4 linked regions of the Homo sapiens genome follow. The protein of the gene in region 1 interacts with the protein of each later gene in a pairwise test. Each region holds a gene or a part of one and is shown in the gene's direction. Other genes may lie near its edges.

Region 1 (5,141 bases):
AACCCTGTCTACTAAAAATACAAAATTAGCTGGGCAAGGTGGCACATGCCTATAATCCCAGCTACTCAGGAGGCTGAGGCAGGAGAATCACTTGAACCCAGGATGCGGAGGTTGTGGTGAGCCGAGATCACGCCATTGCACTCCAGCCTAGGCAACAGGAGCGAAACTCCATCTCAAAAAAAAAACAAACCAAAAACAAAATGGTGGAAATGCTTTGGGTGCAGCCAGTGGGGTACTTGTTTCCTAGGAGCCATCCTTTCATTGATTTTATCATTTTAAGTAATTGGTAGGTATCTATGATGCCATACAGCTGGCTTACTGTGCACTTCTTTCATTGCTGGCAAGGCGAGGCTCTAGCCTTAAAATAAAGCCCAGTGGCCAGGTGTGATGGCTCATGCCGTACTCCCAACACTTTGGGAGGCCAAGACAGGAGGATCACTTCAGGCCAAGAGTTTGAAACCAGCCTGAGCAACATAGTGAGACCCCATCTCTACAAATAACAATAATAATAAATTAGCCAGGTATCATGGTATGCACCTGCAGTCCTAGCTACTCAGGAGGCTGAGGCAGGAGGATCGCTTGAGCCCAAGAGTTCAAGGCTGCAGTGAGCCACAACTGTGCCTCTGTACTCCAGGCTGGGTGACAGAGCAAGACCCTACTTCAAAAAAAAAGCCCAGTGAGTAAACACATCTGTATGATCAGTGTTTTCAAATAATGTATAGGGAAATATCGTTTTCACATCTACTTAAAATTGCACTCTGATATTTTTTAGTTTTTTTTGTTGTTGTTTGTTTTTTTGTTTGTTTGTTTTTGAGATGGAGTCTCGCTCTGTCGCCCAGGCTGGAGTGCAGTGGCACGATCTCAGCTCACTGCAAGCTCTGCCTCCCAGGTTCACGCCATTCTCCTGCCTCAGCCTCCCGAATAGCTGGGACTACAGGCGCCCGCCACCATGCCTGGCTAATTTTTTATGTTTTTAGTAGAGACGGGGTTTCACCGTGTTCACCAGTATGGTCTCGATCTCCTGACCTCGTGATCCGCCCGCCTCAGCCTCCCAAAGTGCTGGGATTACAGGCATGAGCCACTGTGCCCAGCTATTTTTTAGTTTTTCTGATGTTATCTTAGTAATTACTCAGCATTCATGCAACAATTTCTTGTATACATTAGCTACTTTACAAATCCTTCCCGTCCAGATAATGCACTAAATAATGCTCATTATTTTTGGTGATTTTTATTGCTGTTCTAATTGTTAGAATGCCAAGACAGCCCCCATTCAGTTTGTGCTCTGGCACATCAGCTGCTTATTGTCAAATATCTGAGTGCTTACTGTGTGCCACACACTGAGGATCCAGGAGTGAGCAAAGTCAACAGGGTCCACCCCTTACAGAGCGTACTTAGACCTCATCACCTTCAAAAGATAAGAAAGTGATGGGGCTGGGAGAGAACTTAGAAAGTTAACTGGAAGGTGACCTAGTGGTCCTTTTGAGGGAAGCTCAACTTCCAGCAAGGCTGTCCCAGTGGTAATAAGCATCAGAAGGTAGTTTGCACCTCATCTAAGTAATTTTCGTCATAGGTTTACAGAAATTAGTGTTTGCCCTCCATGATGGCTCTTAACAGTTGAAATTAATGGAATAAATATAAACTAAAGATCATATATAGAAATCCGTAAAGATCTGACCAGTCACAGTGGCTCACACCTGTAATCCCAGCACTTTGGGAGGCAGAGGTAAGAGCATTGCTTGAGTCCAGGAGTTCTAGACCAGCCTGGGCAACAGAGCAAGATCCTGTCTCTACAGAAAAAAAATTTTCTTTTTTGAGATGGGAGTCTCGCTCTGTTGCCCAGGCTGGAGTGCAGTGGCACGTTCTCACTGCAGCCTCTGCCCCCCAGGTTCAAGTGATTCTCCTGCCTCAGCCTCCCAAGTAGCTGGGATTACAGGCGCTGGCCACCGCCCCTGGCTAATTTTTGTATTTTTAGTAGAGACGGGGTTTCACCATCTTGGCCAGGCTGGTCTTGAACTCCTGACCTTGTGATCACCCACCTTGGCCTCCCAAAGTTCTGGATTACAGGCATGAGCCATTGCGCCTGGCTCAGTAAATTTTTTTTTTTGGAGACGGAGTCTGGCTCTGTCGCCCAGGCTGGAGTGCCATGGCACGATCTTGGCTCACTGCAAGCTCCATCTCCTGGGTTCACGCCATTCTCCTGCCTCAGCCTCCCGAGTAGCTGGGACTACAGGCGCCCGCCACCAAGCCCGGCTAATTTTTAGTATTTTTAGTGGAGACGGGGTTTCACCGTGTTAGCCAGGATGGTCTCAATCTCCTGACCTCGTGATCTGCCCACCTTGGCCTCCCAAAGTGCTGGGATTACAGGCATGAGCCACCGTGCCTGGCCCCGGCTCCCCCAGCTCAGTAAATTTTTAAAAAATTAGTCAGGCCTGGTGGTACGAGCCCGTAGTCCCAGCTACTCGGGAGGCCAAGGTAGAAGGATCACTTGATAGGAGTTTGAGGCTACAGTGAGCTATGATCACAATACTGCACTTCAGCCTGGGCAACAGAGTGAGACCCTGTCTCTAAAAGTTTTTTTTTAAATTTTTTAATTAAAAAATAAAAAGAGGCCAGGAGTGGCTCACGCCTGTGATCCCAGCACTGTGGGAGGCTGAGGTGGGTGGATCACTTGAGGCCAGGAGTTCACCACCAGTCTGGCCAACATTGCAAAAGCTCATCTTTACTAAAAATACAGAAGTTAGCCGGGCGTGGTGGCATGTGCCTGTAGTCGCAGCTACTCGAAAGGCTGAGGCATGAGAATTGCTTGAGCCCGGGAGGCAGAGGTTGCACCCAGCCGAGATCATGCCACTGTACTTCCAGCATGGGTAACTGACTGAGACTCTGTCTCAAAAAATAATAACAATAATAAATTTAAAAAATAAATCTATAAATATCAATTTGCCTTGAATTAGCCAAGTTGAATCTAATAGTAGCAAATTTGGGGAGGTGCAATAGCTTTCATATTGGTATTTTGAAATCTGTTTTGAAATATCAATCGATAAAAACATAATATCAACCAGAAGGAAAGAATACTTCTCTTAATATTCAGTTTTCCAAAAGAAATAGTTTAATCCTTGGAAATAGGGCCAATTAGAGAAAAAAAACAATCTTGGACTCATCAGAATGTCTATCTCAGTAAAGGTATTTTGAAATATCTCTTATAATTATCCTAAATCCTCAAATAAAAGTTTAATTATATGAAGCCATAACTCTTTGGAAGCTTGGGAAAGTGTGTGTAAAAACTAGATGCTGAGCTCTTTGGAGGAGGGGATTAGGACTTTTTATTTCTAGATCCCAAGCTAATACAAAGCTTTAATGTTGAATGAATATTTGCCATGTGTAGTCTTGGAAGTTTAAATTATAAGGTCTTTGTGTTTTACAGCTTTTGGCTGATGCCTGCATTTATGCTCAAAAAAATAGTTCTTGGAAATTTTTCATCTGGCCCGGTGGACCCTATGATGGCTGATGCCATTGATTTCATGGTAGACAGGGTAAGGATCATGACATTGGGTTGGGGACACATTGTATTGGGAATTTTCACATCTACTTGGTTCCAGAAGATAGATCTGTCTCACAAGTATGTGTAAGAGGTATTTGCTAAGCAGAGTAATACATCTGAGCAGATATTATTGCTGGTAAGGGCTTGCCTACATCAGTGCTTCCCACCAGCTATTCATCAAAATCACTTAGGGGAGCTTTCAAAAATACAGATTGTAAGGCCTCACAGCAGATCATCCATCTGGAATCCCTGGGCATGGGATCTGGGAATCTATTTTTACTTCACACTTTTCCTCTACCCACCAGGTAAATCTGATGAACCAGGTCTGTTGGCTTGCATTTAGGAACTGCTGGGCTAGATGATTTCTCAAATCTCTTTTAAGATCCCTTAAAGGTTTATCTTAAAAAAAAAAAAAAAACAAAAACATATATCTGTCACCTTTGAGCAGTAGGAATTGGCTTGCTGCCCATGGGCACCTGGCTGGAGTAGGCAGTGTAGGCTGAGGGCTGTAGAAGGCCGGGTTTCATTGGTTTGTACCCAGGTTTCCAGAATAGAAAAATGCCACAACCTCCTGAGAAGCCCAGTTCATGGTCTCTCACCTAAGTTGTGGTTCCTCACTGATGACTTTTCTGGCCCCACCACAGATGATACCACCTTTATAAGCACAAATGTTGTCTGTGGATTTAATGTAAATGTGAAAAACAAAATTATTTCAAAAACTTTACCTGTGTTTCTTCCTGCAGCTAGAAAGTTTGGGTCAGAGTGAACTGGCTTCAAGACTTACCTTGAATTGTCAAAATTCTTATGTGGAACCTCATAAAATTCGGGACATACCTGTAACTATTATGGATGTAAGCTTCCTTTTAAGTAAAATAGCTGCTTTACTTTTTAAAATGTGTATGTCAAGATCTCCTATAAAACTATTTGATAACTTTCAATGTACCTCTTCAAATGCTGCCTTGGCTTTTGTTTTTACCCTCCAGCTTTCTCAATTCCAAAATAATCTGTTTATTGCTTATCTTGGATTTCTTTCTGGCAGGAATAACACCATTGAAATCAAAATAGGCCGAGCACAGTGGCTTATGCCTGTAATCCCAGCGCTTTGGGAGGCTGAGGCAGGAGGATTGCTTGAGTCCAAGAGTTCAGGACCAGCCTGGGCAACATAGTGAGACCCTGTCTGTATTTATTAAAAAAAAATAAAAATAAAAATGAATCAAAATAAATTTAAACAAGGGAGTCTACCCATTTGATGTATTTTTGCTGTTCTCATCAATAGATATTGCACCATATATTGCACATATATGGGCAGCAAAGAGAAGGTGCTTCACAAGGGTAACAAGGGTAGAGAATCAAGAATTCCATAGTTTAATTACCACAAAAGCTTGCTTATTTTTTTATTGTGGTAAAATGTACATTTAAAATATGCCATTTTAACCATTTTTAAGTGCATAGTTCAGTGGCATTAAGTATATTCACAGTTCGGCAACCATCACCATTTTCACAACATTTTCATCATTCCAAGAAGAAATTGCATACCCATTAAACAATAACTCCTGTTCCCTTTCTTCCCCCGGCCTCTGATAATCAACGGTTTTATTTTCTG
Region 2 (4,131 bases), on another chromosome or scaffold:
AACTGTGATGACAAAGACCTCTTTGTTTTGTAGCTAAACCTGTGATGCTCACGTTTTCTCATTCACTATTTTTCTACAGTAGGTAGACCCACTTCCCTCTAAAATCTGAATAATGAAGGAAAAATCTTTTATCTAAAAGAAAATGATTATGGTAAGCATTATACAGGTAGAAGTGAAACAAGCTTCATTGATCTGGTTATTGAAATTAATGTGGTGGCTGTCCAATACAGTCAGTTTCAAGCTTTAATGTGTAAATTTCATATTAGAAAGCTTTTTTCTGTTTTTCTTTTTTTTGTTGTTGCTGTTGGTAGTCAGAAATGATCTTTAGTTTCTGTTTCCTAAAGAAAAAAACTAACAATCTGAAAATTTTAAGTGTTCTACTTTAGCAAAACCACATGCTAAGCCAACCTCAAAGTGTTATTTCCACAACAATGACCTTTTTCTTCTTTGAACAGAAGTGGTTTGTTTTTAGGATATTACCAGGCACTCAGTGCGGCAAGATTTTATGAGGCTGAAGAGTTTTCAGTACCTTGTGATCCTCTCAGATTTAAAATGGTGGCCAATCTCTTCTCTCATCCTTTCCCTCAAAACCTTCGTATTAAAAAAAGAAAAACAATTCCAAAGACATTTTTCTTGATATCCTGATATTGTCAGGTCATTTGAATAAAACCTTTCCTTTGTTCAATGAAAAATCGCTAACATGGGGATATCTACTTTAGTGGTGAATAAACAGAAATGCTGACTCCAACCTGCAGAGTCCAAATGCTGAACTTTCCTCGGCACAGAAAGCATATATAAGAAAAAAAAGTGTTTATGCACACAAGCGTGAATTTGACAGAAAGGCATGCAGATAAATAAACTAGATCTGTAGTTCAGTATTGCTTCATATGCCATGTGGTATATGTAGCCTGAGGAATTTCTGAAACGCAGGAGTGAGTTAAGGTGTAGAGAGATTTCTGATAAGATTGATTTATTTGGTTAAGAAATACTTTTCTTAAACCTATTTTTAAAAAATAACACTCAGTATTACCATAACATGCACATTTGAAATGTGAGAACTATAAGAGATGAAAATCTGACAGGTGCAGTTAGTGAAACACAAAGCAGGAGGAGTTGAACCAAAACCATCAGTTAAACATTTTGCATTTAGACTTAATTCTTTGTTAGAAAGGTTGGGAATAACATGAAAGCCATTTTAACCTTGACAATGAAAGGAGATTATCACTTAATTATATTTCAGTGACAAACTGCTTTCTGTCAAATCCAGCCCACAGGACACAAACACAATCTTGGCCACACCTTGGCATTACTGGTTGGCGGCATTATTTCCCTATCCTTTTGTGAAACCCATTCAACATGGAATCAAACAATAGCAACTCTGGCAAGAATCCTCCTATATACACAATGAAGAAATATTTCTGAGTTTCATAAGTTATAACACAAGTGTCACACTTCTTTTCACAGCAACCGAAGGGCAGGAGTTAGTTTGGCTAAAGCTCTCAGGACATTATAATGGCTTTAGTATTTAGAACTGTAGCTCAACTAGCTGGAGTTTCATTATCTTTGCTGGGATGGGTTTTATCCTGTCTTACAAACTACCTGCCACACTGGAAGAACCTCAACCTGGACTTAAATGAAATGGAAAACTGGACCATGGGACTCTGGCAAACCTGTGTCATCCAAGAGGAAGTGGGGATGCAATGCAAGGACTTTGACTCCTTCCTGGCTTTGCCTGCTGAACTCAGGGTCTCCAGGATCTTAATGTTTCTGTCAAATGGGCTGGGATTTCTGGGCCTGCTGGTCTCTGGGTTTGGCCTGGACTGTTTGAGAATTGGAGAGAGTCAGAGAGATCTCAAGAGGCGACTGCTGATCCTGGGAGGAATTCTGTCCTGGGCCTCGGGAGTCACAGCCCTGGTTCCCGTCTCTTGGGTTGCCCACAAGACGGTTCAGGAGTTCTGGGATGAGAACGTCCCAGACTTTGTCCCCAGGTGGGAGTTTGGGGAGGCCCTGTTTCTGGGCTGGTTTGCTGGACTTTCTCTTCTGCTAGGAGGGTGTCTGCTCCACTGTGCAGCCTGCTCCAGCCACGCTCCCCTAGCTTCGGGCCACTACGCAGTGGCACAAACACAAGATCATCATCAAGAACTGGAGACGAGAAACACCAACCTGAAACACTAAGCCAGAAAGGACAAGCGTCTGCTGTTCAGGAGACGCTTGCTCAACACTGGATTTGGTAGGATGTCCCGCTCTAGTCATCTCACTGTGCTTTTGATTTTTGAAAATGCATCTTTTCCTGTGGCTATTAAACTATAGTTTCTTTCCAAGACTGGTAAACCATTTTTATCTTCTAGTCTGAGACCAAAATCAATCAAGACTGAATAGTAATGACACCCATTACTGTGGATGAGTTTTCTCAATTTTAAAATAGCGATTGCACAGAAGTGGTAAATAAAACATTAATCTCTATGTATCTTTGAAGGTATTATTCATATGGAGCGGAATCATTTGGCAAATCATTTACTTATTTCAGGTGTTTAAGATAACCTAGTATAATAAGCCTGAGGTCTTGTTGCATATTTATTTAAAATGCATGACGTCTTATTATATAAAATAATTACTAGCTCTTTAGAAGCTTCAGAGGTGAAAGGTGTAGACACATCATCTCCTTCTGAATCAGAGACCTCAGTGTCTCTATGGAACCTTTTTCAAAAGGCAGCCACATTCAGTCACGCCTTCTATACTGTCAGAGGCAGGAGGGCGATCTTGGGTTTTGGATGATTCAAGTAGACTCTGCCACACAAACGTGCTTCTGCATCCTGTGTTCTGTATTTCACGGGCAGCGTTTCTGGCTTCCCAGGCACTGAGCAGCCTGTGGGGGGCACGGCAGGGCAGGACTGGGGTGTGTGGGTAGATAACCTCCTGGGACGGCTGCCTCTCTGTGGAGCACACTGCCAGCCCAGGCGCAGCGACCACAGAGCACATATTCTGGAGCCCTTCATTTTATTTGCTCAATGAAAATACTTCGTCCTTTTTTATCAGCAATACATATAGTTCCAACAAGAACTATTCATCACAAACTGCCAGCCTGGGGATTTCTTCATGAAATATTTTGTATTTGCTTGGTACATGGTTCAAGGAAACTCTTGTGTTTGTGCCAATCAGGGAAATAAACTGAACAATAAACGACACTGAAATAGAGTATTAGGCAATATGTAGCTTTGTTTTTGCTTTTTTTTTTAAAAAAAACCACTGAATTTTTTTCCACCCACAAACACATGGAAAGTGCAGAAACCAGTTAATCTATGTGATGTATTTGCATACGTTTACAAACAAGACAAATTAAAACAGAAACATGTTCAGAATTTAACCTGATTAAATATTAAGTTCAGTCCTGAGCTTTTGATATTTAAGACAATATAGATAAAGCAATAGCAAAAAATTTTAATTTATTTGATTTGCATGCTACAGAGATTTAGCTAAACTTTGTTCATTTGGCTAGCAATATTCTTTTTGTACCTGTAACACTTAAGATTCTGATATACAAAATTGTAATAATATACTGATAATTCAAACTTGAGAACTAAATATTACATTCTTTTTACCCTGTGCGAATAAATTCTACCTTTTAAAAATAGTATTTATAATATTAAAATTCATATTTGTCCATATGGTTTTGTGATCAAGTTATTAAAATGTTTTGTCACTGTGAATCATTTGGGTTAGTACAAATATGACAAGATTATTAAAAGCTGCCTATAAATACATAACACTATTGCTGACTTTTAAAGTGTAGAAAAAGGATTATATTAAAATAAGTTCATCTCTCATGTTAGAAATGAGGAAATTTTGTGAAATACAACAACCAAAAGCATCTTGGTCACAACTGCTAACTACCAGCCTGAGACAGATTTTATTCTTTAATACTTGTCTGAAACTTTTTGTATTACAAAAAGTCAACAGCTAATCTGATGAAAGACTTATAAAGCTGTAAATATTCCAATATAGTCTCTTCTGTGTCAAATATTTAAAATGGCCAGAATCAAACTATATATTAAACAGAACATAAATAAGACTGTAAATAAATAAATGAAGAAAATAAAATCGTACGGAACAACTACACATAATTCTATAGAC
Region 3 (3,500 bases), on another chromosome or scaffold:
TGGATGCAGGAGCACAGCAGAATCCACAGCCAAGGTACCCCCCTGGAACCCTGGGAACTGGCCTGGTTGAGGAGTGGGGTCTTGACTGGGGGATGGGGCTCCCAGAGCTCACCACGTTTCGGGGCTTGGTGTGGCTGTGTCCAGCAAGGTCGGTATGGAGCTCACTGTAGTTGGTTGACATGAGGCTCAACTGCAGTTGGCCTGTTGCTACTTGACAAAGTTGGCATGGTGGTTGACAGACATTGCAGTTGGCATGAAGATGAATGACAATGCCTACTGGTTAAAACTGGCACCCACAGCCGGGCACAGTGGCTCAAGCCTGTAATCCCAGCACTTTGGGAGGCCGAGGCAGGCAGATCGTTTGAGCTCAGTAGTTCAAGACCAGCCCTTGTAACATGGCGAAAGTCCTTCTCTACCAAAACTACAAACAAATTAGCTGGGCATGGTGGTGTGCCCGCGTAGTACCAGCTACTTGGGAGGCTGAGGTGGGAGGATGCCTTGAGTCTGGGAGGTGGAGGCTGCAGTGAGCTGAGATTGCACCACTGCACTCCAGCCTGGGTGACAGAGTGAGACCCTGTCTTTTTTTTTTTTTTTTTTTTTTTTGAGACAGAGTTTCACTTTTGTCGCCCAGGCTAGAGTCCAATGGTCCGATCTCGGCTCACTGCAACCTCTGCCTCCCGGGTTCAAGGGATTCTCCTGCCTCAGCCTCCCGAGTAGCTGGGATTACAGGCTCCCACTACCACACCCGGCTAATTTTGAATTTTTAGTAGAGACGGGGTTTCTCCATATTGGTCAGGCTGGTCTCGAACTCCTGACCTCAGGTGATCCACTTGCCTCGGCCTCCCAAAGTGCTGGGATTACAGGCGTTAGGCACTGCGCCCGGCCGCAGCTAATTTTTTATGAAGACGGATTCTCGGCCAGGCGCGGTGGCTCACGCCTGTAATCCCAGCACTTTGGGAGGCCGAGGTGGGCAGATCACAAGGTCAGGAGATCGAGACCATCCTGGCTAACACGGTGAAACCTCGTCTCTACTAAAAATCCAAAAAAAAAAAAAAAAATTAGCCGGGCGTGGTGGCAAGCGCCTGTAGTCCTACCTTCTTGGGAGGCTGAGACAGGAGAATGGCGTGAACCCGAGAGGTGGAGCTTGCAGTGAGCCGAGGTTATGCCACTGCACTCCAGCCTGGGCGACAGAGCAAGACTGCGTCTCAAAAAAAAAAAAAAAAAAGACGGATTCTCACTCTGTTGCCTATGCTGGTCTCAAACTTCTGGCTTCAAGCAATCCTCCCACCTCAGCCTCCCAAAGTGCTGGGGTTACAGGCATGCATCACCGCACCTGGCCACCATGTGGTCTTGATGGAAGGTGGTGCCTAGTGGGGTATGTTGGTGTGACAGGGACCACCAAAGATGGCATAGATTCCATCGTGGCCAGTGAGATGGAAGGTGATGGACCCTACCAGGATTGGCATGAACTTAACCCACCTATGCCTGCCAGTGTTGACATAGGCACCTTTTCTGTTTTCTATAGCCCTGAAGGCAGCAGTGTGGATAAGCCCACCCCACAGGAAGTGGCTTTCCAGCTCCGAAGCTATGTCCAGCGTCTCCAGGAGCGCCGTTCTCTAATGAAGATTCTCTCAGAGCCTGGCCCCACCTTGGCACCCATGCCCACTGTGCCCCGTGCAGAAGCCATGGTGCAGGCCATTCTGGGGACCCAGGCTGGCCCAGCTCTTCCCCGACTGGAGAAGACACAAATTCAGCAGGACCTGGTGGCCGCAAGGGTACAAATGGGCTGTGGCCACTGTGTCAGTCTTTCTTGGTGGGACAAAATCCTTTACTGAGGTCGGGGGACCAAGGAGCAAAGGAGAATTCTGCTGGGCTGAGTGCAGGCATTGTGAAGGGAGAATTGGAGCTGGGGTTTTGAGGGATTAATAGGAGTTTGTTTTCTGGGGTTCAGTTTCTCATTAGACTACAAATCTGGCTCTCCAAAATGCCCTTCCTATGGGAAGAGATGGGAGCAAAGAACACAATCTTGGGTTTGTAGCTTGGCATGAAAAACTTGAGGTTCTGGAGTTAGAGAAACTCCAGAAGCTTTGACAGAACTAATACTTGACCTATGTAAGCTACTTGCCCCTCTAGGAAATGCCATTTCTACAGCTGTAGCTTTTATGGGAGGAAGATATTTCCACCTCACAAGAACATGGTGAATGGTGAAGGTCCTAGTTTGTTTGTTTGTTTGTTTGTTTTTTGAGACGGAGTCTTGCTCTCACCCAGGCTGGAGTGCTGTGGCGCTATCTTGGCTCACTGCAGCCTCTGCCCCACTGCCGGGTTCAAGTGATTCTCCTGCCTCAGCCTCCCAAGTAGCTGGGATTACGGGTGTGCACCACCACACCTGGCTAATTTTTGTATTTTTAATGGAGACGGGTTTTCACCATGTTGGCCAGGCTCGTCTCGAACTCCTGACCTCAGGTAATCCACCCACTTTGGCCTCCCAAAGTGCTGGGATTACAGGCATGAGCCACTGCGCCTGGCCAAAAGTCACAGTTTTTGTCTGAATAGTCCTCAGTGGGTGCCTCTTGGGGCCTCAGTTTCCCTGCAGTTGACCGTAGAAGCATAAATTCTCTCCCCTCTCCTTGGTCCCACAGGAGGCCCTGGCGGACCTGATGCTTCGGCTGCAGCTGGTGCGGCGTGAGAAGCGGGGCCTAGAGCTGCGGGAGGCTGCCCTCCGAGCCCTGGGTCCAGCTCACGTGCTCCTGCTGGAGCAGCTGCGGTGGGAACGGGCAGAGCTCCAGGCTGGTGGGGCAAACAGCAGTGGCGGACATAGCAGCGGAGGTGGCAGCAGCGGGGACGAGGAAGAGTGGTATCAGGTGAGCTGCCCTGCCTGAACCTGGTAGGGGAGTAGCTTACTAATGAGAACATAGCCCTTGTCAATCACAGCCTTTTTTTTTTTGTTTTTTTTGAGACGGAGTTTGGCTCTTGTTGCCCAGGCTGGAATGCAATGTTGCAATCTCGGCTCACCACAACCTCCGCCTCCCAGGTTCAAGAGATTCTCCTGTCTCAGCCTCCTGAGTAGCTGGGATTACAGACACGCACCACCACATCTAGCTATTTTTTGTATGTTTTGTAGAGATGCAGTTTTGTAGAGTTGCAGTTCACCATGTTAGCCAGGCTGCTCTCGAACTCCTGGCCTCAAATGTTTCGCCTGCCTCCACCTCCCAAAGTGCTGAGATTACAGGCATGAGTCGCCGCACCTGTCCTTAATGCAGCTCTTTAAATCATCTCTCCTACCTCCAAGCCTTTGTATATTCTGTGTCCCTGCCAGGAACACCGGTCACTTCCCTCTTTGTGTCATAAAGTCCTCGACCTCCTGTAGATCTCAGCTTAGACATCACCTCCTCAAGGAAGCCCTCCTGGAGTGACTTCAGATGCGGTTTCCTGTTATTTATTTCCCTTATCACAGTGGTCCCAGCTACTCGGGTGGCTGAGGTGGGAGGATCACTTGAACC
Region 4 (2,755 bases), on another chromosome or scaffold:
TGAAACTGAATTATCCACTTAGTCTTTGCAGTACCCAGGTGTACTTGAAATATCCTAGTTGGGGAAAAAAAAGAGAGAGAGAAATATCATAGTTGGAAAACTTTAGAGTATTTAATTATGAAAATAAATCTGTAAAGTACCTAAGACTTAGGTTATTTCCTTTTACTTCTAACAAAGCTATCGTAAAGTTTGTTAGGATTGACCTTTAGAGAACATTTTTATAATGCAATGTTATTTCTGTGCGTGTGTATGCAAGGGTATAAATAAGTATATATAAAATACTCTTAATATAGCCCGGGCTTTGGCACGTATCCATGAGGTTTATTCTCTTCATTCACAGTGGTTGATAAATTTCTATCTCAAGAACTTTCTTTTTTTTTGAGACGAAGTCTCACTATTTCGCCCAGGCTAGAGTGCAGTGGCACAATCTTGTCTCACTGCAACCTCCGCCTCCCAGGTTCAAGCGATTCTCCTGCCTCAGCCTCCAGAGTAGCTGGGACTAGAGGTGTGTGCCACCATGCCCAGCTAATTTTTATATTTTTGGTAGAGATAGGGGTCACCATGTTGGCCAGGCTGGTCTTGAACTCCTGACCTCATGATCTGCCCACCTCAGCCTCCCAAAGTGCTGGGATTACAGGTGTGAGCCACTGCGCCTGGCCCTAGAATAAAGTAGCTTTCTTATTAGTTACTTAAAAATATTTCTAAGATCAGTCTTCAAATGTTCTTAAAGCATATTTGTATATATATTTTTTATCTTTCAGCCTCAGGGATTTAGAGATACTGTTGTTACTTCTGCATGTTCATTGCAAACAGAAGGTTCCTTGAGCACCCGGAAACGGTCACGAGACCCAGAGGAAGAATTATAACCCAGAAACAAATCTCAAAGTGTACAAATTTATTGATGTTGTGAAATCAATGTGTACAAGTGGACTTGTTACCTTAAAGTATAAATAAACACACTATGGCATGAATGAATCCAGATCATATGAAGTGAATGGGAAAAATACCTAAATATGATTCTGTGAAAGTTTTTCTAAAGCAGTATTCTGCAATTATATTTTACCCTGTTTTCATTTTCAGTAACATTCAGTAGAGATGATTATTATATTTCACAAATGTGGAAAGCTGATCTCATGTGGCCAGTCTGAATTTACCATTCATACTGTTTTCACCCCTTTCTTTCCCAGTTGCCTATAAAATCTTAGGAAGAAACATATCATATTCTTATTGTGTTTTTTTTTTTTTTTTTTTTTTTGGAGATGGATTCTCGCTCTGTAGTCCAGGCTGGAGTGCAATGGCGCAATCTCTGCTCACTGCAACCTCCGCCTCCCAGGTTCAAGCGATTCATCTGCCTCAGCCTCCCGAGTAGCTGGGGTTACAGGCACCTGCCATCGTGCCTGGCTAATTTTTTGTATTTTTGTAGAGACAGAGTTTTACCATGTTGGCCAAGCTGGTCTTGAACTCCTGACCTCAGGTGATCTGCCTGCCCCTGCCTCCCAAAGTGCTGGGATTACAGTCGTGAGCCACTGTGCCCAGCCATGTTCTTTTTAAATGTAAATTTGATAATTCTTTAAAATTACCCGCTTTTATAATTATAAAAGAGAAGCCAGCACCATGAGTCAGCATATTATTCTGTTCAGTTTTATAGGTAAGATACAAATTTTAGGTGACCAAACTGATTTTAGTGACCTCAATCCTAAAATCTAAGCCATTTGTTTAGCTTTTAATGACATTTTATAATGTTAAAGGGAGGACTTTGGAGCTGTTATCTCATCTAGAGATTGTTTGGAACATATGTCTTCCAGAATAGGTTGATAAGCTCACAATCATTTATTGCTACGTTTTTGTTTTTGTTTTGAGACAAGGTCTCACTCCGTCACCCAGGCTGGAGTGCAGTGGCATGATCATAGCTCACTGCAGCCTCGACCTCCCGGGCTCAAGCAATCCTCTCACTTCAGCCTCCTGAGTAGCTGGGACTACAGGGAGGCACTACCATGCCCTGCTAATTTTTGGATTTTTTTGTAGAGACAAGGTCTCACTATGTTGCCCAGGCTGGTCTCAAACTCCTGGTCTCAAGCGATCCTCTTGCCTTGTCTTCCCAAAGTGCTGGGATTACAGATGTGAGCCACCACACCTGGCCTCATTTCTATATTTTGAAACACGGTATGATCCATTCTAGAATTCTAGTTGTTATGTTGACATTTTTCTTTGAATAATCTTAACTTTGCTTAAATAAATTAAAGATTTCAATTCTCGATGGTTTCAAAATCACCTAAAAATATTTTCACACTTGGCTCTTAGTACTTTTCAACTTACTCACAAAATTTACTTTGGTTCCCTGTGGGGGAAAAAATAATTAATTTTGGGACAGAATCTCGCTCTGTCACCCAGACTGCAGTGCAGTGGCACAATCTTGGCTCACCGCAACCTCTGCTTCCAGGGTTTAGGCGATTCTTGTGCCTCAGCCTCCCAAGTAGCTGGGATTACAGGCATGCACCACCGTGCCAAGCTAATAGTTTGTAATTTTAGTAGAGACAGGTTTCTCTATGTTGGCTAGGGTGGTCGCGAACTCCTGGGGCTCAAGTGACCCGCCCACCTCTGCCTCCCAAAGTGCTGGAATTAACAGGTGTGAGACTGCGCGCCCAGCCATATTTATATATTTATTTTTAAACTATTATTTTAGGTTCAGGGGTACGTGTGAAGGTTGGTTACGTAGGTAAACTCATGTCACGGGTTTATTGTACAGATTATTTCA

The links. Proteins that work in one complex are often made in the same cells at the same time.
Region 2: the proteins of SPG21 (region 1) and CLDN22 interact in binary tests that used the Homo sapiens proteins (3 or more experiments, as listed by UniProt).
Region 3: the proteins of SPG21 (region 1) and USHBP1 interact in binary tests that used the Homo sapiens proteins (3 or more experiments, as listed by UniProt).
Region 4: the proteins of SPG21 (region 1) and RAD51C interact in binary tests that used the Homo sapiens proteins (3 or more experiments, as listed by UniProt).

Annotation. Positions count from the first base shown.
Region 1 is NC_000015.10:64,968,503-64,973,643, reverse strand, and holds part of SPG21 (maspardin), read left to right. Parts: intron 1-3,421; coding exon 3,422-3,530; intron 3,531-4,281; coding exon 4,282-4,389; intron 4,390-5,141. UniProt on the Homo sapiens protein: May play a role as a negative regulatory factor in CD4-dependent T-cell activation.
Region 2 is NC_000004.12:183,317,600-183,321,730, reverse strand, and holds CLDN22 (claudin-22), read left to right. Parts: upstream 1-1,454; 5' UTR 1,455-1,512; coding exon 1,513-2,175; 3' UTR 2,176-3,631; downstream 3,632-4,131. UniProt on the Homo sapiens protein: Plays a major role in tight junction-specific obliteration of the intercellular space, through calcium-independent cell-adhesion activity.
Region 3 is NC_000019.10:17,254,746-17,258,245, reverse strand, and holds part of USHBP1 (harmonin-binding protein USHBP1), read left to right. Parts: coding exon 1-34; intron 35-1,525; coding exon 1,526-1,775; intron 1,776-2,639; coding exon 2,640-2,861; intron 2,862-3,500.
Region 4 is NC_000017.11:58,733,357-58,736,111, forward strand, and holds the end of RAD51C (DNA repair protein RAD51 homolog 3), read left to right. Parts: intron 1-761; coding exon 762-866; 3' UTR 867-2,255; downstream 2,256-2,755. UniProt on the Homo sapiens protein: Essential for the homologous recombination (HR) pathway of DNA repair. Involved in the homologous recombination repair (HRR) pathway of double-stranded DNA breaks arising during DNA replication or induced by DNA-damaging agents.